Linked DNA regions of Homo sapiens. The protein of the gene in region 3 purifies or fractionates together with the protein of the main gene of each other region. This does not show direct contact. Each region holds a gene or a part of one and is shown on either strand. Other genes may lie near its edges.

What was found.
Region 1: the proteins of TNNT3 (region 3) and YTHDC2 purify together in Homo sapiens (affinity purification with mass spectrometry; one large-scale study listed by BioGRID and IntAct). This does not show direct contact.
Region 2: the proteins of TNNT3 (region 3) and FGFBP2 purify together in Homo sapiens (co-immunoprecipitation; one large-scale study listed by IntAct). This does not show direct contact.
Region 4: the proteins of TNNT3 (region 3) and TXLNG purify together in Homo sapiens (affinity purification with mass spectrometry; one large-scale study listed by BioGRID and IntAct). This does not show direct contact.

What each region holds. Positions count from the first base shown.
Region 1 is NC_000005.10:113,564,747-113,570,565, forward strand, and holds part of YTHDC2 (3'-5' RNA helicase YTHDC2), read left to right. Parts: intron 1-1,146; coding exon 1,147-1,273; intron 1,274-2,345; coding exon 2,346-2,551; intron 2,552-2,907; coding exon 2,908-3,103; intron 3,104-5,819. UniProt on the Homo sapiens protein: 3'-5' RNA helicase that plays a key role in the male and female germline by promoting transition from mitotic to meiotic divisions in stem cells.
Region 2 is NC_000004.12:15,958,861-15,965,422, forward strand, and holds FGFBP2 (fibroblast growth factor-binding protein 2 precursor), read right to left. Parts: upstream 4,316-6,562; 5' UTR 4,270-4,315; coding exon 3,598-4,269; 3' UTR 3,578-3,597; intron 1,752-3,577; 3' UTR 1,385-1,751; downstream 1-1,384.
Region 3 is NC_000011.10:1,932,181-1,937,999, reverse strand, and holds part of TNNT3 (troponin T, fast skeletal muscle), read right to left. Parts: intron 5,532-5,819; coding exon 5,486-5,531; intron 4,280-5,485; coding exon 4,163-4,279; intron 4,070-4,162; coding exon 3,992-4,069; intron 3,669-3,991; coding exon 3,555-3,668; intron 3,455-3,554; coding exon 3,345-3,454; intron 3,172-3,344; coding exon 3,081-3,171; intron 1,787-3,080; coding exon of another isoform or gene 1,746-1,786; intron 1,038-1,745; coding exon 997-1,037; intron 1-996. UniProt on the Homo sapiens protein: Troponin T is the tropomyosin-binding subunit of troponin, the thin filament regulatory complex which confers calcium-sensitivity to striated muscle actomyosin ATPase activity.
Region 4 is NC_000023.11:16,820,291-16,826,109, forward strand, and holds part of TXLNG (gamma-taxilin), read left to right. Parts: intron 1-5,819. UniProt on the Homo sapiens protein: May be involved in intracellular vesicle traffic. Inhibits ATF4-mediated transcription, possibly by dimerizing with ATF4 to form inactive dimers that cannot bind DNA. May be involved in regulating bone mass density through an ATF4-dependent pathway.

The DNA.
Region 1 (5,819 bases), on a different chromosome or scaffold from region 3:
TATTTCTTGAAAACATAGGCATTGTATTTATTCTCAAATCTTCTTGAATGTCGACTGTGTCTATACATTTTTTTGTTGTTGTTTTTTGAGACAGTCTTGCTCTGTCACCCAGGCTGGAGTGCAGTGGCACAGTCTTGGCTCATTGCAACCTCAGCCTCCCAGGTTCAAGCAGTTCTCCTGCCTCAGCCTCCCGAGTAGCTGGGGTTACAGGCACCCACCACCATGCCCAGCTAATTTTTGTGTTTTTAGTAGAGACAGGGTTTCACCATGTGGGCCAGGCTGGTCTCGAACTTCTGACCTCAAGTGATCTGCCTGCTTTGGCCTCCCAAAGTGCTGGGATTACCATGTGTGAGCCACCATGCCCAGCCATATTTTTTAAAAATCTAACTTTGTTTATGCAGAAAGTACTCTTTTTCAGACACAGAAGATTTTTTCACCACATATAATTTTCAAAAATAATTACAAGCTCTTTTGTGAGTATTGATCAATGGATAACTCATTGTTATTAATTGGGTATATTAAATACCATATATTATAGTAGATAGTTGAGTGAGAAGTAGAGGGAGATTTAGAGTAGAATTTCTATCTGTTCTTTGCTTTTCCCCCAGCTCCTTCAAAAGCAGAGAGGATAAATTATTGCTTCAGTCTTTTAGTTATATATATACCAAAGCAAGAGAACCTATTCACAGAGGAGAGCTTTTTATACTGCATATAGATGATTTATAGAAATCCTACTTTCCATTCTTAGGTAGAGTCCAGGGTTGACATAGAGATTATTTTTTGGAGGACAAGAGTGGCACGATTCTTAGATATAAGTGTTAAGAAGTCTTAGTTGAAAACCTATACTTTTGTAGAGAGTAAAATTAGCAGATGCATCTGAGAAGGCAAATATTTTTACATTGTTAGTCATTTAGGCTACTTGACACTTAGTTCTCTTTGCGATTTTATAAACTCAATGGCTTTTTTAGCATTTGAGTATAAATTAATGATAAATATTATTTGATCATAAAGTCTTAGATTTTATAGAAAATTAGAATAAGGCAAATTCACGTCGAGGAATTCGTGTAGTGATTTGTAGTTACTTGTTGCCTCACTAAGAAGCGATTAGTAAATGTGTCTTGTTATGCAATTATTCTCTTTTTATAGGCCTGGCAAAAAGCACGAAGTGATGGGTGGGAGCGAGCCTTTTGTGAAAAGAATTTTCTTTCACAGGCTACTATGGAAATAATCATAGGCATGAGAACACAGTTGCTTGGTCAACTTAGAGCATCAGGTAAAGTTTTTCCCTCAAAGAGCCTATTTAAGTTACTGAGAGTACCCTGCCCATATTTCATAGTATTTCTTATGTTAACTGATGCCATCTATTATTTTTATGACATTATCATGTTGTGTATCTTATATTCATGCATGATTTGTAGACTTCGATATGTCTTCAACTTTTGCTTGTTGATGAAAAAATGCTATTGCAGGAGGTGTATTTGAGAAATCTAGGGACAGAATCTATATGCTTGTGATACTGTTGGCAATGAACAATTTGTATTGGTTGGCAGAGATCAATTTAGATCTTATAGTTATTTTCTTTTATCACCATTAATGAATACTTATTTAGTTCTGTGAAATAGAAATTTTAAAAAATTGATATGAATGCTGCTCTTCATATTTTTGGAACACAAAAACAGCTAGTAATACTTGAAGTCACCTTTTTTTTTTTTTTTTTTTGAAGAGGATGCTAGTATTGCTATTACCTTTTAGAATTGCCTTTTTGAGTAGCAAAAAAAAATTGATGTGGTAGTCAGAAGAATAGTACCAGAGCCTGGATTCATGGGTTAGCTGAAGTGCCAGAGTAATATAAGGAATGAACCAGAGGACTTAAGAGTTGACTTGAACATAAGGAAATATGAAGGACTTTTGAAACTCAAGCAAAAATTACCATATATTTACTTGACTTCATCTACAGAATTAGTATCTATCATAACCAAAATGTTGTTAATAACAGTCAGAAGAATGGTTTGGGTTTCCAGCTATGAATTTAGTTTGTTTCTGGCAGCAGATTATGAAGAACTTTATTGCAAGAATGTGGATCTAAAAAAATTTAAGCCCCAAGTGATTCTTATACTTAATCTAACCTGAGCAGATCTACACTTCCCTAGAATGTTGGTTCTGTATCTGTTTTAGGGTGGGGAGGGGTGGTTCATATTTTAAACAACTTTCCAGAGGAGATTCTATTAATTATCGTGAAATTTGAATATCACAAAATTTACATGAGTTGTACAAGTTTTTGGAAAAAATACACAAAAGTATCTTTTGCACAATAGAAAAATTGGTGTGGTTTTTTTCCCCTCTAGGTTTTGTTAGAGCACGAGGTGGTGGTGACATTCGGGACGTTAACACAAACTCTGAGAATTGGGCTGTCGTTAAAGCTGCATTGGTGGCAGGCATGTATCCTAATTTAGTCCACGTGGACAGAGAGAATCTAGTGTTGACAGGGCCAAAGGAGAAAAAAGTACGATTTCATCCTGCTTCAGTTCTCAGTCAGCCTCAATATAAAAAGGTAAAAGATTTTGAATGCTGTTGGGTTTTGAGGTGAAACTAATTTAGGTAGTTCACTATCAATGAAAAATGCTCCAAATACCTGCCTGCTTTAAGAAATTAATTAGTTATATATATATATATATATATATCATTAAATATTGGAACAAAACTTATAAATTTTAGAGTTGGAAAAGGTAACATGTTAAGTAATGAGTACTTTTGTACGAACTACATGAGCGATGACTTGTTTTAATTTTTGCTTACGTACTAATATACATCATCTATTTCATTGAGAGACTTTACATTTTAAAAGTATTTCCAATAAACTAGGTGATAAACACAATTAACAATTTTTAAAATTTATTTTCTTAATAGATTCCTCCAGCCAATGGTCAAGCTGCAGCAATTAAGGCACTGCCCACAGATTGGCTTATTTATGATGAAATGACCAGAGCCCATAGAATAGCTAATATTAGATGTTGTTCAGCAGTGACGCCTGTCACTATATTGGTATTCTGTGGACCAGCTAGATTGGCAAGTAATGCTCTTCAGGAACCTTCATCCTTTAGAGGTAAATGTATTAAGGAAATAAAAATCTATTTGAAATGAATTTTTTTTTTTTACCAAATAATGAAATTATTTTACTAAACCAAATAATGAAATTATAAAGATTTATATAGTAGCAGCTCTATTTTGATGTACTAAGACTAATTAGGAAATACTAAGGTATACTACTGTTTTTGAAATTTATTTATAAGGTAACTTGATGTTTATTTGTGCATTTTTTATTAATCTTGCTGTTGGGAAGAAATTTTTCTTTTCCACTTGAATTTAAATGATAGTTTAACGTAAATAAAGTTAATTGTAAAAGAAATAATAGCCACCCATAATCTCATTTTTCTCATGCTAACACTTTTTAATGTTATATTTTTTCTACATGTTTACATATTTTAAATTATTTCACCCAAACTGTTATTTTATATTTTGTTATTTTCATTACAGAGATATCAAAAATATTTTTAGTATTTTATATTAATGACTGCAAAATAGTATATCACATTGAAGTGGCATAATGCATTTTTTTCCTTCAACTTTTATTTTAAGTTCAGGGGTACATGTGCAAGATGTGCAGTTTTGTTGCATAGGTAAAGGTGTGCCATGGTGGTTTGCTGCACAGATCATGACATCATGTATCTATCAAGCCCAGTGTCCATTAGCTATTCTTCCTGATGTTCTCCCTACCCTCTACCACACACCCCCAGTAGGCCCCAGTGTGTGTTGTTCCCCTGTCTGTGTCCATGTGTTCTCATCATTCAGCTCCCACTTATAAGTGAGAACATGCGGTGTTTGGTTTTCCATTCCTGCATTAGTTTGCTGAGGATAATGGCTTCCAACTTCAGCCATGTCCCTGCAAAGGACATGATCTAATTCCTTTTTATGGCTGCATAGTATCCCATGGTGTATATGTACCATATTTTCTTTATCTAGCCTACCATTGATGGGCATTTGGGTTGATTCCATGTCTTTACTATTGTGAATAATGCTGCACTGAACATACAAATGTACTTATCTTTATAATAGAATGATTTATATTCCTTTGGGTATTTACCCAGAAATGGTATTTCTGCCTCCAGGTCTTTGAAGAATCACCATGCTGTCTCCCATGGTGGTTGAATTAATTTACACTAGTGTAATTTAATTACACAGTAGTGTAAAAGTGTTCCTTTTTCTCTACAACCTCACCAGCATGTTGTTTTTTGACTTTTTAATAATAGCAATTCTGATCTCATTGTGGTTTTGAATTGCATTCCAGTAATGATCAGTGACGTTGAGCTTTTTTTCATATGTTTGTTGGCCACATGTACATCTTTTGAAAAGTGTCTGTTCGTGTCCTTTGCCCACTTTTTAATGGGTTGTTTTTTCTTGTAAATTTGCTTAAGTTCCTTGTATACTCTGGATATTAGACCTTTGTCAGATGGATAGATTGCAAAAATTTTCTCCCATTCTGTAGGTTGTCTGTTTCCTCTGATGATAGTTGTTTCTTTTGCTGTGCAGAAACTTTAGTTTAATTAGATCCCATTTGTCAATTTTTGCTTTTGCTGCAATTGCTTTTGGCGTTTTTATCATGAAATCTTTGCCTGTGCCTATGTCCTGAATGGTATTGCCTAGATTTTCTTCGAGGGTTTTTATGGTTTAGAGTTTTACATTTAAGTCTTTAATCCATCTTGAGTTAATTTTTGTCGAAGGTGTTAGGAAGGGGCCCAGTTTCAGTTTTCTGCATATAGCTAACCAGTTCTTTCAGCACCATTTGTTAAATAAGGAGTCCTTTCCTCATTGCTTGTTTTTGTCAGGTTTGTTAAAAATCAGACGGTTGTAAGTGTGTGGTCTTATTTCTGAGTTCTCTATTCTGTTCCATCATTCTATGTGTTTGTTCTTATACCAGTACCATGCTGTCTTGGCTACTGTAGCCCTGTAGTATAGCTTGAAGTCGGGTAGCGTGATGCCTCAGCTTTGTTCTTTTTGCTTAGGATTGTCTTGGCTATATGGTCTCTTTTGGTTCCATAAGAATTTTGAAATCGTTTCTTCTAAGTCTGTGAAGACTGTCAGTATAATGGGAATAGCATTGAATCTGTAAATTTCTCTGGGCAGTATGGCCATTTTCATGATATTGATTGTTCCTATCCATGAGCATGGAACGTTTTTCCATTTGTTTATGTCCTCTCTGATTTCTTTGAGCAGTGATACGTAGTTCTCCTTGAAGAGGTCCTTCACTTCCCTTATTAGCTGTATTCCTAGGTATTTTATTTTACTTTATTTTATTTTATTTCATTTTTTTGAGATGGAGTCTTGCTCTGTCACCCAGGCTGGAGTGCAGTGGCACAATCTCAGCTCACTGTAACCTCCGCCTCCTGGGTTCAAGCAATTCTCCTGCCTGAGACTCCTGAGTAGCTGGGATTACAGGCACGCACCACAATTCCTGGCTAATTTTTGTATTTTTACTAGAGACAGGGTCTCACCATGTTGGGCAGGGTGATCTTGAACTCCAGACCTCAAGGTGATCCATCTGCCTGCCTTGGCCTCCCAAAGTGCTGCAATTACAGGCGTGAGCTATCATGCTTGGCCTTTTCCTATGTATTTTATTTTTGTTGCAATTGTGAATGTGAATTCATTCATGATTTGGCTCTCTGCTTGCCTGTTGTTGGTATATAGGAATGCTAGCAATTTTTGCACATTGATTTTATATCCTGAGACTTTGCTGAAGTTGCTTATCAGCTTAAGAAGCTTTT
Region 2 (6,562 bases), on a different chromosome or scaffold from region 3:
TGATGAATAAATATTTCTTAATTGTGTGAACTACATATAGAGGCCATATTAGTAGTCTTCAACTCAGGTTACACATAGAATTGCCTGGAAATTACTTAGGATACACCCCAGAGATTCTAATTCAATTAATTAAGGGCGGTGTTTCTCAAACTTGGCTGCATATTAGAGTCACCAGGGGAAATGTAAAATTGCACATGCTCAGGCCCCATCCCTGGCCAGTTACACCGTAACCTCTGGTGCTGACGTCCAAGCACCAGTGTTTTTGAAAAGTTGCCCCAGGTGACTCCATTATGTAGCTAGGGTTGGGCACTGCTGGGCTAGTTGGGGAAACAATTTAAGTACATCAAGAGTGGACTAGTGGGCCAGGTACAGTGGCTCACGCCTGTAATCCCAGCACTTTGGGAGGCCGAGGCGGGCGGATCACCTGAGGTCAGGAGTTCAAGACCAGCCTGGCCAACATGGTGAAACCTTGTCTCTACTAAAAATACAAAAATTAGCTGGGCATGGTGGCACATGCCTGTAATCCCGGCTACTCGGGAGGCTAAGGCAGGAGAATCGCTTGAACCCAGGAGGCGGAGGTTGCAGTGAGCCGAGATTGCACCACTGCACTCCAGCCTGGGTGACAGAGCGAGACCCATCTCGAATAAATAAATAGCCATTAGAAAAAAAAGAGAGAGAGTAGACTATTAATGTGTTCTTAGGTAAGACAAATACGAAATTAAGAAGTGAGTCACTTTTCGCGTATGTCTAATAAAATCTAATTTTCTTCCTTTCCAACTCTGTTGATTAATTTAATTGCTGAGTGTACAGGGTTGTTCTTTTTCAGGTTCACTTCTCTATCTTTTTGGCTAGTTGCTATTGCTGCATGGTGGCTGTGCTGGGTTGAATAGTGCCCACCAAAAATTTATGTCCATTTGGAATCTGTGAATATGATCTTATTTGGGAATAGGGTGTTTGCAGACATGATGGAGTTAAGATAAGGTCTTTCTTGATTAGGATGGACCCTAATCCAATGGCTGGTGCCCTTATCAGGAGAGGGAAATTTGACACACACGCAAGGGAAAATTCCATGTGAAGACAGAGGCAGGGATTAGAGTGATATGTCTATAAGCCAAGGAATGTCAAGGATTCCAGCAACTTTAAGAAACTGACAGAGAGGCATTGAACAGATTTTCCCTGAGACCCTCCAGGAGAAACTAACTTTGGTGACATCTTGAGGCACTTCTTGCCTCCATCACTGTGAGAGAACACATTTCTGTTGCTTTAAGCCACCTAGTCTGTGTAATGCACGATGGCACCCTGAATAAAATAATAGTGACTTCATGGGTATACATGATCCCTATAGCATCTAGGTATCACGTTCATTAAGAAGACTAAAGTCGTATTTCTGAAATCATTCTTTTATTTTGCACACACATAGCTGCTATTTACTGAACACTGGAAATTCATGAATGCGTTACATATTTAAACTTTCATAGAAGGCTCAGATCAACAAAGCAAAACTTCTACAGATAATAAGTAGTTGTGTATGCTTGTCACTCTTGGGCCCATCAGCACCTGTTCCCTATCATATTGCTGAACTCTGCAAACTCCAGAAAGGAAGGTTTCTTTTCCAAACTTCAGAGAAGCTGCAGATCAAGAATTTGGGCCGTTGCATCTGATTAGAAACTCTCTTCTTCCAGTGTGAGAACGTTGGATTGAAAGCGGCATAATATAAAAAGAGATGGTTGTCTGTCAGGGAGAGGTCAGATCTAAAAAAAAAAAAAAAGAAAAAAAAAGGAAGGGATGAAAAATTCTTTCTTTGTTGTTATGGGTTGAATTGTGTGAATTGTGTCCCTCCCAAAACCTAAAAACCGTAGACTTAAGTCCTAACCTCCAGTACCTCAGGGAGCGTTTGTATTTAAAGATAGGGGCCATTAAAGAGGTGGTTAAGGTAAAATGGGGCTGTTTGGGTGGGACTTCATCCAGTGTGAATGGTATCCTAACAAAAAGAGATGAGGACACAGACCCACGCAGAGGAATGACAGAGAGAAGGCTGCCATCTATGAGTCAAGGAGAGAGTCCTCAGAAGACACCAATCCTGCTGACACCTTGATCTTGGAATTTCAGTCTCCAGAATTGTGAGAAAATATATTTCTGCTGTTTAAGCCACCCATTCTGTGGTATTTTGCTATGGCAGCCCCAGCAAGCTAATACAGTAGTCCTATGCAGCTTATCTGCAGGATCAAGATATTGTTTTGAGCTTTAGCGCCTGTATGCATCTGTATATACGCTGTACATCTGTCTGTGTAAATACGCATGGATGGATGTCTAAATGGGTACTCTTCTGTTAACATTGTTTATCTCTGTGTGGTGGGATTATGGATGAAGTTTTAAAATTCTTTGTATTTTTCTGTTGTGTTTGAATTTTTCAAATGATTTGTATGTCTTATTTGTAGAAAGACCAAAAAAATCACTTTAAAAAGAAAAAAAAAAGGACCTCCTCTCAATAGTAACTTTTTTTGGCTTAAGTGTCCCCTTTTCTCCTCTGGGACAGATCTGAAATCTTAAACAAGCAGAAAACCTCCAGCCCAGAACAGCAGACACCAAAACAACTTTGTTGTGAACCAACATTTCTTGCTGCCTGGGCGCTTGTAGAAAAAGCCTTATTTGTTTGGTGGTATTCGTTATCAAAGTGCTGTTTATCAGGAAATCTGCTTTGTTCCTATTTTTCTTACATAGATAATATGAAAAAAACTCAGAAACTCTCCTTTTAAACTCAAAGTGCACAAGTAAGACTAGAATCCCATGTAAATGAACTCCTTACTGGTGTGCAAAATTAATGAAAGCTGCTACATTTAAGGATAGAGATCAGTAATAAGCCTTATTTCCACAAGAAAAAGTTTGGTCTTTTAAAAGCAATACTTGGAGTTGATTAAATCTGTTATTATTAATTAGATTTTCTCCTCTGTGATGAACAAAAAACAATTAAAGGCTTTGAGAGCTGTGAGAAAGACTTTAAAGACTATTTGACTCAAACTTTCCTCAGTGCACAACACTCCCCACCCTAACTTGACTGTAGGAGAAAAAACTGAGAACAAGACGGGGTGTGGCGACACCTCCACCATGACATAGCACCTCGGCCACTAACAGCTGCAGCAAATGCTTGGTTCATTAGGAAACGTTACCCGGCAGAATTCCAAAGGCCTCGGTCTAACAGTGAGGTGGTTCCATCACAAGGAGATTCTCAACCTTGGCTGCACATTCAAATCACTTGGGGGAGAGTTTTAAAAGTCCACATTCCTGCGCTACTATGTTGGAGACATAGATGGAACGGTCTGGCGAGGGGCCTGGGCATCAGCATTTTTAGAGCTCCTTGTAGGTGATTCCTATGCAACTCCAGGGTCAAGTGCCACTCCGGATGAACTACCTCATCTACACTGCTCTGCAACAGACAGCCTCAAACCCACCCCCAAACACACGCTGAGACTCTGATGTGGTCGCAGCAGCTGTGAAAGTGCTAAGTGCCTCTCACGTAGTCTCTGTATATAAGTATATACACGTAGTCTCTGTATATGAGTAAAGGAAAGGGTATTACCTGTAGGGGTCTTTCACCTGTCACCCTCGGAAGAAGCTGATGAGAAAGGCGCACAGGGCCTGGAAGGGTTTCCAACAATGTTCCCAGGCCTTCTTCTTTGCTTCCTCATTCCCTCCGGGCCTGGGTCCAGGCTGGGTAGGTTTGGCTGTGGGTCGGGTGGTGGGTTTGGCTTTTCCCAGCTCTTCCATCGAGTCCTTTCCCAGCTGTGTTGCTTCTGTGAGTTTCACTGTGGCCTTGGGCCTCAGAGATGGCGTCCCAGCCTCAGGCTGCTGGTTGGGCTCTGGGCTGCCCTTGAGGCTGGAAGTCACCTGCTGCATATGGGCCTGGGGTCCAGCCTCCCTGCACACGGATGGCCTAAGCACCGGGGCCCCCTGGCACGCATGGTGAAGGCGCCTCAGCTCCTGCAGGGCTTGATTCCAGTAAGGTTTGGGGTCAGCAGCGAAAGCCTGGCACATGCTGGGCTGCCCCCTGTACTCACACCAGTAGGTCTGGTCTGTGTTGCGGCAGTCGACACGAAGCCAGACTTCTCCAGCACCTTGCCCCAAGCTGCTGGGACGCATAGTGCAGGAATCTCTCCCTCCAGTCTGGAAATGGAATTCCTCCCCAGTGCTTCCTTGCTTTTGCCTCGGGGCCTGACCCAAAGTCCCCAGGCAGGACAAGGTCACCAGCAGGAGGCAGGGGACGAACTTCATGGCGATACTCCGATAAACTTGCTTGCAACTCTGCACCAGGAGAGAGAACACAAGTGGGACGAGTCACCCTTTAAAGGGTGCTGCACAAAAGACTCTTTCTCTGCAAGGGTGGGGAGGATGTTTTGCAGCAAATGAGAAACATGCCCACAGACCTTAGACACGTAACACTTGGCAAGGGCAGAGCAGCCACCAGGGGCCGCCCACCACAAGCAAAGGGAATGGTTTTCCTGAGTGCCTCAGAGAGATCTGCCCCAGCCCTGTCACGCACAAAGCGCCACACACAGCTTTGGGGCTGAGGGTTTTACAGTTTTCCAACCACAGGGTGCTTGCTCTAAAATTGGCCCTTGTACGGGAACAGCCTTCTTTGTCAACATTTGGTATATGCCAAGGTGTGGCAGTGGTATTCTGGAAAGTGAGGTTTGCAGCTGGGAGTCTGGGCTGCCTCGAGGCTCCCTCCTGCTCCCTGGAATCCCCATCTTGGGGGACCATGGGTTTAGTTAATCCAAAGGAAGCCAGAATTTTATGAGCCTAAGTGTTATGAGATGGCCTAGCAAATGCAAAAAAGACTATGTGAGGTTGTGTGAGGATGTGTGTGCCAGAGGGACACAGAGACACTCCCCCTCCCACCCACCGAGCTGAGAGTCACCTGGTGTGGCCTCTGTGGGGCTGTCCCGCCATCACCGTGGCCACAGGCCACAGTGCTGCAATGTTCACTTCCCTTGTTATTGCATGCCTTACAATTGCACCAACTGAATGATGACGAGGAAGGCATGCAAATATATGTTCACAGTGGGATTCAGTCTATTTTAGACCATGAATTCTATTTCAAATTCAATTGAAATAACACAGTTTTAATTATATCACAGGAAAATATGATTTTAAATATTATTATTATTGTTCTACAATAGAAAAAAAATAAATTGAAAATAACTTTTGATTCTGTGTCAAGAATCATAGTTTGGTATGGTCATAACTGTCTTTTGATGACCCTTCCAGAGGGCACTGTGGAGTGGACTAAAGGTGGCAATTTGCTGTTAGGAATAGGGTTGACGGATGTTGGGGGACTAGTTTGAATGTGAGGGATTTATCTTGGCGATCCCACGTAGGGTAGTTGGTACCTGGCACAGCCTTCCTTCCACCTGGATATCCTGAGTCCTGAGAAGACCTAGTAGGGCTGGAACTAAAGCCAGGCTGAGCTTCGGCAGCCACTGTGTGTGTAGCAGTGAGAGCCTTCCAGAAGAGGGCATCACCCCAGGTGGGGAGCAGAGGAAGCTTCCAAGAAGTGGTGCCAAACCTTCAAGACAAGTCAGTCAATTTGTCAGGTTGAGAAAGGGTAAAGGGCAGGTGTTTTTTTTGTTTGTTTGTTTGTTTGTTTGTTTTGGCCTCATTCTGTCACCTAGACCGGATTGCACTGGTGTAATTATAGCTCACTGTAGCCTCCAACTCCTGGGCTCAATTACTTCTCCTGCCTCAGCCTCTCAAGTAACTGGGACTACAGGCATGGGCTGCCACACCCAGCTAAATTTTAAATTTAAAATTTTTAGGGACAGGGTCTCACTCTGTTGTCCAGGCCGATCTCACACTCCAGGCCTCAAGCAATCCTCCTGCTTCCTTGTCCTCTGGAGTCACTGGAATTACAGATGTGAACCACCACAACCAGCTAAAGGTAGGTTTTTTTTTTTTTTCACACAGTCTTACTTTGCCACCCAGGCTGGAGTGCAGTGGCACAATCTTGGCTCACTGCAACCTCCACCTCCCAGGTTCAAGCAATTGTCCTGCCTCAGCCACCTGAGTAGTTGGGATTACAGGCGCCTACCACCATGCCAGGCTAATTTTTGTGTTTTTAGTAGAGATGGGGTTTCACGACGTTGGCCAGGCTGGCCTCAAACTCCTAACAAGTGATCCGCCCACTTCAGCCTCCCTAAGTGCTGAGATTACAGGCACGAGCCACTGCGCCTGGCCAAGGGCAGATTCTTAAGGCAGGATAATGCTTCCTGTAAAGGAGTGATCCTGGAGTGCAGGTTTATGGACTGCTGAAATGTCAAGGGCAAGGAGGCAGTGGTGAGAATCAGGCTGGAGAGGTGACTTAGGGTGGGGTCCGCAGCCCCCGTACCAATCCACAGGGCCAGTTCTAAGACAGAGGCTTGCCCTTTGTGTGCTTCCAACTCAGGAGCCCCTGGAGTAAACAGCACTCCAACCCAGGCTCCATGTCGTGGCCACAGGAAGGCAGGTGTTCAGCTCCAACCTCCTTTCCCCCACCCACCACAGTGTTGCAGGGAACAGCTTGCTAGAC
Region 3 (5,819 bases):
GTGCGGGTGAGGGGTGAAGGCGGGTGGAGGACAGGAGTGCTTCGGCCCGCGAGGCCGGCCCCATTCAGACGCGGCTGCTCAGCAGGACACCTGGCTGGCAAAGGCCGTGCCCTCACACACGTTCCTGGGCACTCTCGGCACATGCACACATGCACACACGCAGGCACATGCACACCACGCCGACTGCCCACCCTCAGAGGGGTCTGCAATGACCCCTGACGGCACAACAGGGAGGCCGTGAGGTCACGTGCACCACGGAGGAGCCCGCCCTGGGCGCCGCAGGGAAGCCAAGGCGACAGGAGGAGGGAGAAGAATCCCAGAAAACATCGAAACTCCAAGTAGCCCCCAAACACTGCGATCCTTGGGGAAATGGCACTGGCTGTGCAGCTGGGCTCCATGACAGGATCCCCAGCGTGGCATCGCCGGGGGCACCCTGGGTGCAGCCCCATGCAGGTGGTCGAGTAGCTGTGTCAAGGGATCCCACAGCCCCCAGGGACACGATTTTATGGATGAGGTTTCACCATCCTGAGGAGTCCATGATTTTGCCCAGCGTCACAGAGGGGCTGGTGATGAAGCCCTGACTGCTTAATTCCCTGTCCTAGGTCCCCTTGGAGGGTGGGACACTGGCGGGATACCCTGGGGCCCAGGTTGGCCACACCAAAGGCCCCCCGAGTAGCCCCTTCTAGGGGTCCCCTGGCTGCCCTCTCCCTGCAGCCAGTGCCAGACTCGGGGCGAGGGCGTGACAGGCAAGCCCCATTGGGATCCCTCCTCCTGACTCTGCCACCCCCCAGGGCTCCCCTGCGTGCAGGAGAGGGAGGAGGCTCCGGGTCCCTGGCCACAGGCCTGCGCATGCTGGCCTGGGTGGCCTGGCCGGGTTAGTCTCGTTACTGCCCTGCCGAGGCCAGCCACCACCGGCCCTTGTTAGGGACTGGCTACAGCGGCTGGCCCCAAGGGCCCCTGTGCCCAGTGCGGAGCGAGGACGGCAGGGCTACTCACTGCTTCTGGGCCTGGTCAATGCGGCTCCTGAGCGTGGTGATCTGTGAACAACATGAGTGACTCACTGCGACGACCCGAGGGCCAGGCCTGCGTGTACTGGGTGAAGGCCTGTCTCCACCGCAGGGTGGGCTGGGCTGCGCGACCCAGGGCTGCTGGGCCCCCATGAGGGCTCCTCGGCTCCCTTACTGTCTCCTGGCTCCTTGTGCAGGGGGACACCGTCCCGTGGCCCCTGGGCTCATGCCTGGACTTACTCTCGCCAGCCTGTACTGGCCTGGACTGCCACACACAGCAGCCCGTAGCTGGCCACTTACCTTCAGCCTGCGGCAGGATGTGGGGCGGGGGGTACGGAGCACGGATGGGGCTGGGGAGGGGTTGCAGGTGAGGCCTGCGGACCCCTCCTTCTCAGCTCCAGCTCCCTTCAGCCGCTGAGCTCAGAGCTCCGAACGGCCCTGCTGCTCCTGGGCCAGCCGCTCCCGCCCTCGTGCCTGTGCCCAGGGGCACTCTGTGGCCGCTGCTGGCTTGAGGCGGAGCTCCTGGGAAGGTGGGGGCCCTTCCTCGCTTGCCAACAGGGCAGCGGCCACTGGGAAGCCCCCGGCTGCAGGCACGAGGGGAGAGCGGGGGCAGGAGGAAGGCTCCAGGCCCCCTGCCGCCAGCATCCTGAGCGATCCAGGTTTTTGCCATGCGAGAGGTTCACCTCACCGTGCAACGCACACCCACGGGCCTGGCCCAGGGCGGACCCGGCTACTTACAACTTGGCCAGCATCTGCACTCTGGCCCGGACATTCATGATCTAGAAAGACCAAGATGGTTACAAGGCTGGATGGGCGGCTGGGGCATCGAGGCCCGGCTGTGGGCTAGCTTGGCCTGGTGATGGCCCTCCAGGCTCTGGAGCCCCTGGGGGCCCGCTGTGGCCGCATCTATCCAAAGCCAGTGGGTCCCTGATTCAGCTCTGGGAACACAGCATGGGAAGGACCTGGGTCCTGTGCCGTGAAGCCCGTCTCAGGGCCAGCCCCTCTGGGAGAGCCCCAAGGGTGAGGTCAGGGCTGTCCCTCATGCCTGGACCCCCTGGGGACAGCTCTGGGAGGGAGTGTAATCGCCCTGCCTCTGTCGGAGGGGAGCTCGTGGAAGCTCAGGTGGAACAGGTGGCCTGCCCAGAACCCCCGAGAAGGAGCTCGGATTTGCCCGGCTGGCTTGGACTGGTCGCCCCACACCTGCTGCACCTGGGTAGAGCACAAGCCCCGTGGGCACAGCCGCCCTCCCCTGGGGCCTCTGGCGGTGCTGGAGGGTGGACATCGTGGCCCTGATGGTGATGCTGGAGTGTCTGCATTTGCCCCGAGCACGTGGATCACCCATGGCTGCGCCCCTCACCCCTCGCCCCTGGAGCCCAAACGGGTGTTTGGGAGGGTGGGAAGCAGCTTGGCTTCCACCCTAGCTCCCACATTGTACCCCAGTCCCTGAGGCCGCCCGGGCAGGCTGCCTTCCCCAGTCCCAGCTTTGCCTGCGGTGATAGTGCCTGCATGGGATGGTGGCTCTGCTCCGTCCCAGACGGGCACAGTCCCAGGCCCCTTTTCCCAGCCACAGGGTGCAGTGTGTCACCCCTCTCTGTCTGCCCTGAGGAAGCAGGTGTCCGGGGCCCTGGTGGAAGCCAGAGTCTGGGTTTGTGGAGGAGGCTCTGTCGAAAGGACGCCCCACACCAGACGGACTCGGTGCCCCGGGGCCGAGCTGGGTGATGATGGGGACTTTCTATAAGCTTAAAGGGGTTCCGAAAATGAACCCTGAGTCCACTTGGCCATGGCTGCTCTGCCACGACAGTCCTTTTGGCAGGGGTAACCAAGGCCGCCCAAAGGGGCCAGGTTCATCGCTCAGGGCGCTGCATGGCCAGCCAGGAGGACGGGCTCTGGCCACAGTCCCCAGCAGGAAAGCAGCCTCAGCCAGGGGTCCGTGGCAACAGCCTGTTTGGGCCTCTCAGGGTCCAGGTCCCTGGGGTGGGCAGGTCCAGAGTTTGGTAGGGACGCAGGGAGATGGCTGCTCTGCTGGTGGGTGAAAGCCGCTAGGGCCCCAGGGCCGGAGGTGCCGGGACTCACGTCATATTTCTGGCGTTTCAGCTTCTCCCCAAACTCGAACTTGTCAATCTCCAGCTGGTGCAGGGTCTCCCAGAGCTCCTTGGCCTTGTCCCTGGGGCAGAGGAAGTGGTGAGGCTTCGTTGAATAAGCCCCAAAGGCAGGGCCAGGCCCCTGGAGTCCTCCTGCAGCCACTGGGGAGCACGGTCCTTGGCAGCCTGAGGAGCAGTCGGCAGCTCCTGCAGGGGCCACCCCGTGGGGCTGAGCCCCACAACACCCACCCCTCACCTCAGTTTGTCTTCACCAAGGTGATCGATGTTGAGCGGCTTGCGTCTCTCAGCCAGAATCTTCTTCTTCATTTCCCGGGCTGTCTGCTTCTTGCCTCTCTTCTGGTCAGCCTGCAGCGGACAGGCCCAAAGAGAGGGGCCTGGTCTCAGGAGGGCACAGGGCGTAGCCCACACTGAAGGCTACCACCGTGCTCCCAGCAGCGGCACACACCTTGGCCAGGTAGCTGCTGTAGTTGGCTCCCATGGAAGACAGAGCTTTCTTCTTCTTCAGGTCGTCCTCTGCCCTCCTCTTGGCATCCTCCTCCTCCCTTCTGGCCTTTTCCTCCTGTGGAGACCCCATTCCCAAGATGCTCAGGGATGGAGAGAGGGCTATGCTTTCTGGGCAGGCTTTAGGGACCCACCCTGGGCTTAGAGCTGTCTGGAAGGGCCCACCCTGGGCTTAGAACTATCTGGAAGGAAGCTCCAGGTCTTGGCCAGGATTTGTTTTCTGGCAAGGGGTTCTGCAGGGCGCCGGGGCCTTAGCCAGTGGTTCTGATCATTGGCCAATGACAATGGGAACCCCGGGAGAAGGAAGGCCTCAGCCCCCTGCATTTCTCTGGGCCTGGGGCTCATTCTCTGATGAGGCAGCAGTGCGGATGGTGCCCTCACCGCCAGTCTGTTCTGGCGCTCCCTCTCCTTCTCTGCACGAATCCTCTGCTGCTCCGCTCTCTCTGCACGGCGCTTCTCCTGCAGCCAGAGAAGGGGGTCTGCTCAGCCCTGTCCCCGGCTCCTCCGAGGGAGTCCACCAGCCCCTGCTGCAACCTGAACTGCCCCACTCACGATTCTCTCTTTGAGAGCGACCAGCTCCTCCTCCTCCTTCTTCCGGGCTTCAAAGTGGCTGTCGATGAGGGCCTGGAGCTCCATTAGGTCTTTGTTCTGACGCTTCTTCTGGATGTCCTGTGGGCAGGGGCAGTGGGTGTGAGCCCCACCCCTCTCTCCAACCTCTGCCCTGCCTGGCCTGCCTTGCAGCAAGAGGTCCCTTCCTTTGCCCCAGCAGAGAAGCCCTGACTCCCTTGGCCACCATGAAAATGGCAAGTGGCAAGGAATGTTTTGCCTTCTCCACATTGCCATGGCTGCTATCCTCATAGGGGCCGAGGGTGGCCTGATTCCTGAGCCACACAGCAGGGATGGTGCCCAGCCATAAGGTCCTCAGCATCCTTAGGATGGACTGGCCCTGACTTGGCTCTGTCATCATCCTCAGAGATGCCCTGCATGGGCCTGGCAGAGAGAAGACTGCAGAGTGAGAGAAATTGTTGGATACATAGGTAGGCATGTGAACAGATGAGCTGATGGATGGGTGGATGAGTGAGAGAGGATGGAGACAGATGACTGGGTGGATAGATGGATGATTGGAGAAATGGATGGATGGATGAATGGATGGATAGGTAGATGGGTGGAGGAATGATTATGTGGATTAATGGTAGAGGATGCGTGGATGGTGGGTGAGTGGGTGGGTGGGTGGATGGGAGGATGAATGGGTGAATGGGTGGGTGGGTGGGAGGGTGGATGAGTGGATGGTTATGTGAGTGAGTGGATGATAGATGGATCGATGGATGGATGAGTAGATGAATGAGTGGTATGAATGGATGGATGGATGGGTGGATGGGTGGGTGAGCGAGTAGGTGAGTGGAGAGATGAGTGAGTGGATAGGTAGGTGAGTGTATGAATGGGTGGTTGGGTGGGTGGATGGATGGATGAATGGGTGAGTGGATACGTGGCTGGTTGGATGGATGGAAGTAAGGCAGGATGGATGGATGGATGGATGGATGGATGGGTAGGTGGGTGGTTGGGTGGATGAATGGATGGATAGATGGTTGAGTGGATGGGTGTGTGGGTGGGTGTATGAATGGATAGGTGAATGGGTAGGAGCTTACGTGGGTGGGTGGATGGATGGATAGAAGGATAGATGGAGGAGAAGGGAAGAGAGATGCTTATTCTTAGAGGGGTTTCCTCTGGCCCAGGAATAAGCTATGGTAGAATTGCCCAGACCCAGGAGGCCCCGGCTCTGGCTACTTGGGAGGAAGTGACCTTCTGAGGCCTAGAGCCCAAAAGCTGGGGTGTGGGGAAACCGTGGACATGTTAACCAGAGTCCTGTAAACTTACATCGAAGTCCACTTTCTCCCCTTCTGGGATCTTAGGAGCAGTGAGTCTGAAGAGGAGACAGAGAGGCCCGTGAGCAGAGACCCGGAGACCCACCCCAGAGGGTCAGCCTGGCGCTTTCCCCGCTGGCCCCTGCCAACCCTGGTGCCCTCCTGCTCTGGCCCCCAGCCAAGCATGCCCGCCTAGTGACACGTTTGCCCCAGCTTTATTCTTATGAGGTTTGTAGCCCACCATCCTGAGAGTGGCTTGAGCCCCTCAAGAAGGCTTCCGCTTCCAGCGCCACCGTCTGCCTTTTGGCTTCTGGCCATTGCAATGTCACTGCACCCCAGCTACCAGG
Region 4 (5,819 bases), on a different chromosome or scaffold from region 3:
AATATAACAAAATGTGTGTGTGCTTGATAAGTTTCTTAAAGTACAAATTTGATATGGCCTTAAATGTAAAATTATATTTTATTCTGAAATTGAAGAAGAGAATCTGTTTTGTTGGGGCTTTTTATTGGTTGTATAGTTTCATTTTATGAGGTAATATATAGGGAACATTGTAATACTAAGATGTGGCATAGATTTTCTAAAACTCAGTTTTAGAGTCTAAGTCAGCCTTTCCATTGCTATGTTGTGATGCCTTAGGTGCCACTCAGTTGGGGTGTAGTGGTTCCTGTCTTAAACTTTTCCTAAGGGAATTCTAGAGATTGAGGACTGTTTTGATTGAGATTGTGAGTTACATGAAATCATCTGCTAAAACAATACTTTGTCTCAGAAATACTTCTTTAGCATCTACTATGTGTCAAGCATCCTTTTTTCCATTTTCTAGAAACAGTGACCTTATCAAAGAGTTTGTTCTCAGCTATATTATTTTATTTTATTTTTTTGAGACGGAGTCTCGCCTGTGGTCCAGGCTAGAGTGCAGTGGTGTGATCTCAGCAGACTGCAAGCTCCACCTCCCGGGTTCACGCCATTCTCCTGCCTCAACCTCCTGAGTAGCTGGGACTACATGTGCTCGCCACCACGCCTGGCTAGTTTTTTTAATTTTTTAGTAGAGATGGGGTTTCACCGTGTTAGCCAGGATGGTCTTGATCTCCTGACCTCGTGATCTGCCCGCCTCGGCCTCCCAAAGTGCTGGGATTACAGGCATGAGTCACCGCGCCCGTCCATTCTCAGCTATATTACAGGTATTACAGGTAGCATTAATTCTCTTTTTGGAGTTTCTTTCTTTCTTTCTTTCTTTTTTTTTTTTTTTTTTGAGACGGAGTCTCGCTCCGTCACCCAGGCTGGATTTCAGTGGTGCGATCTTGGGTCACTGCATCCTCCGCCTCCCGGGTTCAAGCTATTCTCCTGCCTCAGCCTCCTGAGTAGTTGGGACTACAGGCGCGTGCCACCACGCCTGGCTAATTTTTTGTATTTTTAGTAGAGATGGGTTTCACCGTGTTAGCCAGGATGCTCTCCATCTCCTGAACTTGTGATCCGCCCGCCTTGGCCTCCCAAAGTTCTGGCATTACAGGCATGAGCCACTGTGCCTGGCCCGTGAGGGCAGTTTCAACTTGGAAACCCTGCCATCCTATTTGAATTGAAGAATGGGAAAATCATAGAACCCTTTAAAGGAATGGTTGCGGGAAGCTTTTAGAATAAGTGGTTCTAATATAAATGCTAAAATTATTGCCTTTTGTGACATACTTAGGTGAATTATCATGTACAATTTATATGCATCTTCATCTGTTAAAACAGTTAATTCCATATCATAAGCCATTACTTTTTTTTAAATCAATGATCAGCTCTAAAAAAATGAATTCTGAGGCTGGGCGCGGTGGCTCACGCCTGTAATCCCAGCACTTTGGGAGGCCAAGGTGGGCGGATCACGAGGTCAGGAGATCGAGACCATCCTGGCTAACACGGTGAAACCCTGTCTCTACTAAAAATACAAAAAAAAAATTAGCCTGGCATGGTGGCAGGCGCCTGTAGTCCCAGCTACTCGGGAGGCTGAGGCAGGAGAATGGCATGAACCCGGGAGGCAGAGCTTGCAGTGAGCCGAGATCGTGCCACTGCACTCCAGCCTGGGCAACGGAGCGAGACTCCATCTCAAAAAAATAAAAAATAAAAAAACTGAATTCTGTTAGTTTATTGCCTCAAGAATGACAGTTACAGGCCAGGCATAGTGGCTCACGCCTGTAATCCCAGCACTTTGGGAGGCCGAGGTGGGTGGATCACGAGGTCAGGAGATCAAGACCATCCTGGCTAACACGGTGAAACCCCGTCTTTACTAAAAATACAAAAAAAAATTAGCCGGGTGTGGTGGCGGGTGCATGTAGTCCCAGCTACTCGGGAGGCTGAGGCAGGAGAATGGCGTGAACCCGGGAGGCGGAGCTTGCAGTGAACTGAGATTGCGCCACTGCACTCCAGCCTGGACGACAGAGTGAGACTCTGACTCAAAAAAAAAAAAAATGACAGTTACTTTCCCTTAGTTTATGAAGTGGTCCAGGTATACCTCAGTTAGCTGGCATTCAGCAGCTTGGCACCTTTCACTATTTGTAGCAACAGGACGCCCTGTGCATCAGTGAAAATGTCCCAGAGCAGTCACAAATGCAAAGATGGCCGAAAACACAGCGTGGTTGGATTGATGGCTTCAGGAAAGGAATGCTTCCATTGGCTGTGGAAGCCAGTCCCCCTTGGTGCCTTTCACATGGGGAGAATCATGCAAGAAATGGCGGAAAAAGAAGAAAGACAAGAACAGAAAAGGGAAAAGAAAAAATGGAGAAAAGAGTAAAAACCAGAAAAAGCAGTGTCGAAGGTTAGCTACCCAACCCAGTGATGTGACAATGACAGACAGCCATGAATTGGTTAGAAGAGAGAACAAACAGTGATCTGGGGTGGTTGTTCTCAGACTCACACCGATCATTGAACTTGTGGTTAAAATGCACATTCTGATTCACTAGGCCTTGGTTGGGGCCTGAGGATCTGCATTTTAACAAATGCCCGGGCAACAGTGATGATGCTGCCAGACCTTGGATCACACTTGAAGTAGCAGGGGTCTAGGGTGTTTTTGTTTGTGACTTTTGGTTTTATTGTTTTGATTGTGGATAAGGTTATTGCTAAGCACCAGCAGTAATGACTGTGTTCATTTCAGGATGTGACACATTGAAGACTTGCCTAGTGAGTAATCTCTCTTTTATACAGATTTGTGCCAAAAATTTGAAAGACAAAATGTGTATTGTTTCCAGAAAATGTTCTAAAGCTTGATTTCTTGAAGCAACACATATTTCACTTAAAAGGTAGATATAGGCCGGGCGTATAATCCCAGCACTTTGGGAGGCTGAGGCAGGCGGATCACCTGAGGTCGGGAGTTCGAGACCAGCCTTACCAACATGGAGAAACCCCGTCTCTACTAAAAATACAAAATTTGCTGGGCGTGGTGGCGCATACCTGTAATCCCAGCTACTCAGGAGGCTGAGGCAGGAGAATCACTTGAACCTGGGAAGCAGAGGTTGTGGTGAGCCGAGATCGTGCCATTACACTCCAGACTAGGCAACAAGAGTGAAACTCTGTCTCAAAAAAAAAAAAAAAAAAAAAAAAAAGTGGAGTATATATATGTGAGGTCACCAAGGGAGTCACAGCCTTTTCCCAAGGATTATTCTGAAAAGTTCCCTTCCCTTTTGCCATCACTGTCTTCTGCCCGTTTATGACATATATCGTCTGATGTCATTGTGCTTGTTGCACTGACATGCATAACTGTTTTGTGGAGCAGTTGGAATGGATTTCTGTGCACTGTAACTGGGATTGTCCATTGGAGAGACCCTGTGGCCAACATGTTCACCAGATCACATGGATTCATGAAATTGTAGCATTTTGCTTTTAGCTGTGGATACCATTAACATGATCCTTAAGTACTTTATAATGCTATTCTTTCCCATCCTGTAGTCAGTTTGTACAGATTATTATAGCATAATAATCTTAATATATGCTTGGGGTAGGTTCCATTCTCCTTACTCTTTTCTTCTGAAGTATCTTGGCTATTCTTGGCCCTTTACTCTCTATAGATTTTAGATTCAATTTAGTAGTTCCGTGTGTTGGGGGGCACTATTTGGGATTTCAAAGAGCATTTCACAGAATCTGTAGATACATTTGGGGGAGAATTGCCATCCTCATGATATTAATGTAACTTAAAAAATGGTTATCCTGGCCAGATATGGTAGCTCAGCCCTGTAGCATCTGCACTTCAGGAGGCTGAAGCAGGATTGCTTACAATCAGGAGTTCAAGACCAGCCTGGGCAACGTCGCAAGACCCTGTACACACACACACACGCACACACGCCTGTAGTCTCAGCTACTTGGGAGGCTGAAGTGGTAGGATTGCTTGAGCCCAGGAATTGGAGGCTGCAGTGAGTTCGTGCCACATGGCAACCCAGCCTGGGCGACAGTGCAAGATGCTATCTCCAAAAAAAAAAAAAAGTTATCCTTTTGAGGAAAAAGTAAAATTAGATCCTTACACACCAGAGGCAACAATCAATTCCAAATAGATTAAAGGCTTAAATGTCAAAAATTAAGCTTTGAAATTTGTAGATATTATTTTGATTTATCAATAGATAAATATTTTTCAAACCTTGAGTTTAGGAAATATTTCTTATAGCACAAAAAGCACTGTCAGAGGAAAGATTGTACAAATTTGCTTTATTGAAATTAAGAACTTTGTTTTCGTCAAAAGATGCCCTGAAAAAAAGTGAGAAGATGGCCAAGCGCGGTGGCTCACACCTGTAATCCCAGCACTTTGGGAGCCTGAGGCAGGCGGATCACGAGGTCAGGAATTCAAGACCAGCCTGTCCAATATGGTGAAAGCCCGTCTCTACTAAAAAAATAAAAAAAAAAAAATTAGCCGGGCATGGTGTTTGCGCGCCTGTAGTTCCAGCTACTCAGGAGGTTGAGGCAGGAGAATCGCTTGAACTGGGGAGGCGGAAGTTGCAGTGAGCCAAGATCGCACCACTGCATTCCAGCCTGGGCAGCAGAGTGAGACTTCATCTCAGAAAAAAAAAAAAAGTGAGACGACATTACAAACTGGGGAGAACATATTTCCAACAAATATAACCAGCAGGCGATTTAGTATCAAGAATATCTAAAGAACACTAATGTGAAAAGGACAAATAGCCCTATGGAAAGCTGGATGAGAGACATGAAAGGGACATTTCATAGAAGTGGAAAAACAAAGATACGAAGATACCTTAACATAAAGGTCCATAAACATTCAAAGAGATGTTCCACCTGATAAGTGATTAGGGAAATGCAAATTAGGACCACAGTGAGATGCCATTTTACGTCTATTGTAGTGGCATAAATGAAGAAATCTGATCATTTTGGAGAGGATGTGGATCTACGTGGTCTCTTATATATTGCTGTTGGGAATATCAATTCACCATTGTCATGTGAAATCAAACATTTAGAAATCATTGCCCAGCAACCTCATTTCTGATGTTTGCACAGAGGAGAAATTCCTGACACGTGTATACCAGGAAACACATGAGAATGTTCATACCACTGTGAGTAATAACAAAACCTAGAGACAGCCCAGATGCCTGTTGATGCAAGAAGATGGATTAATAAAGAGTTTTGTGTGTATGTGTGGTGTGTTTTTATTTTTTATCTACTTGTTTGTTTATTTTTCAGACAGGGTCTCACTCTACCACCCAGGCTGGAGTGCAGTGGCGCAATCATGGCTCACTGTTTATTTTTTAGAGACAGGTTCTCACTTTGTGTGGTATGTTTGTGTGTGTGCTGTGTTTTTAAAAAGTGGAATATTATACAGCCTGTGGGCCAAATGCATCCGAAGTCTGTTTTTACACTGCCCACAAGAATGGTTTTAATTTTTAAGATGTTTAAAAATAAAGAACACGTGACAGAGACCATATGTGGCCTGCAGTGCCTAAAATATTTACTTGCTGGCCCTTTACAGAAAAAATCTGCTAAGTCCTGATCTGCAGCTACACGCCAACAATGTGGATGAGTCCTAGCAATGTAATCGAGTTGCGCTGTCCAAGACAGTAGCCATCAGCCACATGTGGCTTATTAAATTAGTGTAAATTAAATGAAAATTTCAATTCCTCATTTGCACTAGCTACAATAAAGTCAAAACAGCTAAAACCAAAAGGATTTTTTTTTTAGAGAAGTGCACACAGATGAAATGAAATTATATAGAAAGGAAAGCGAAGGAA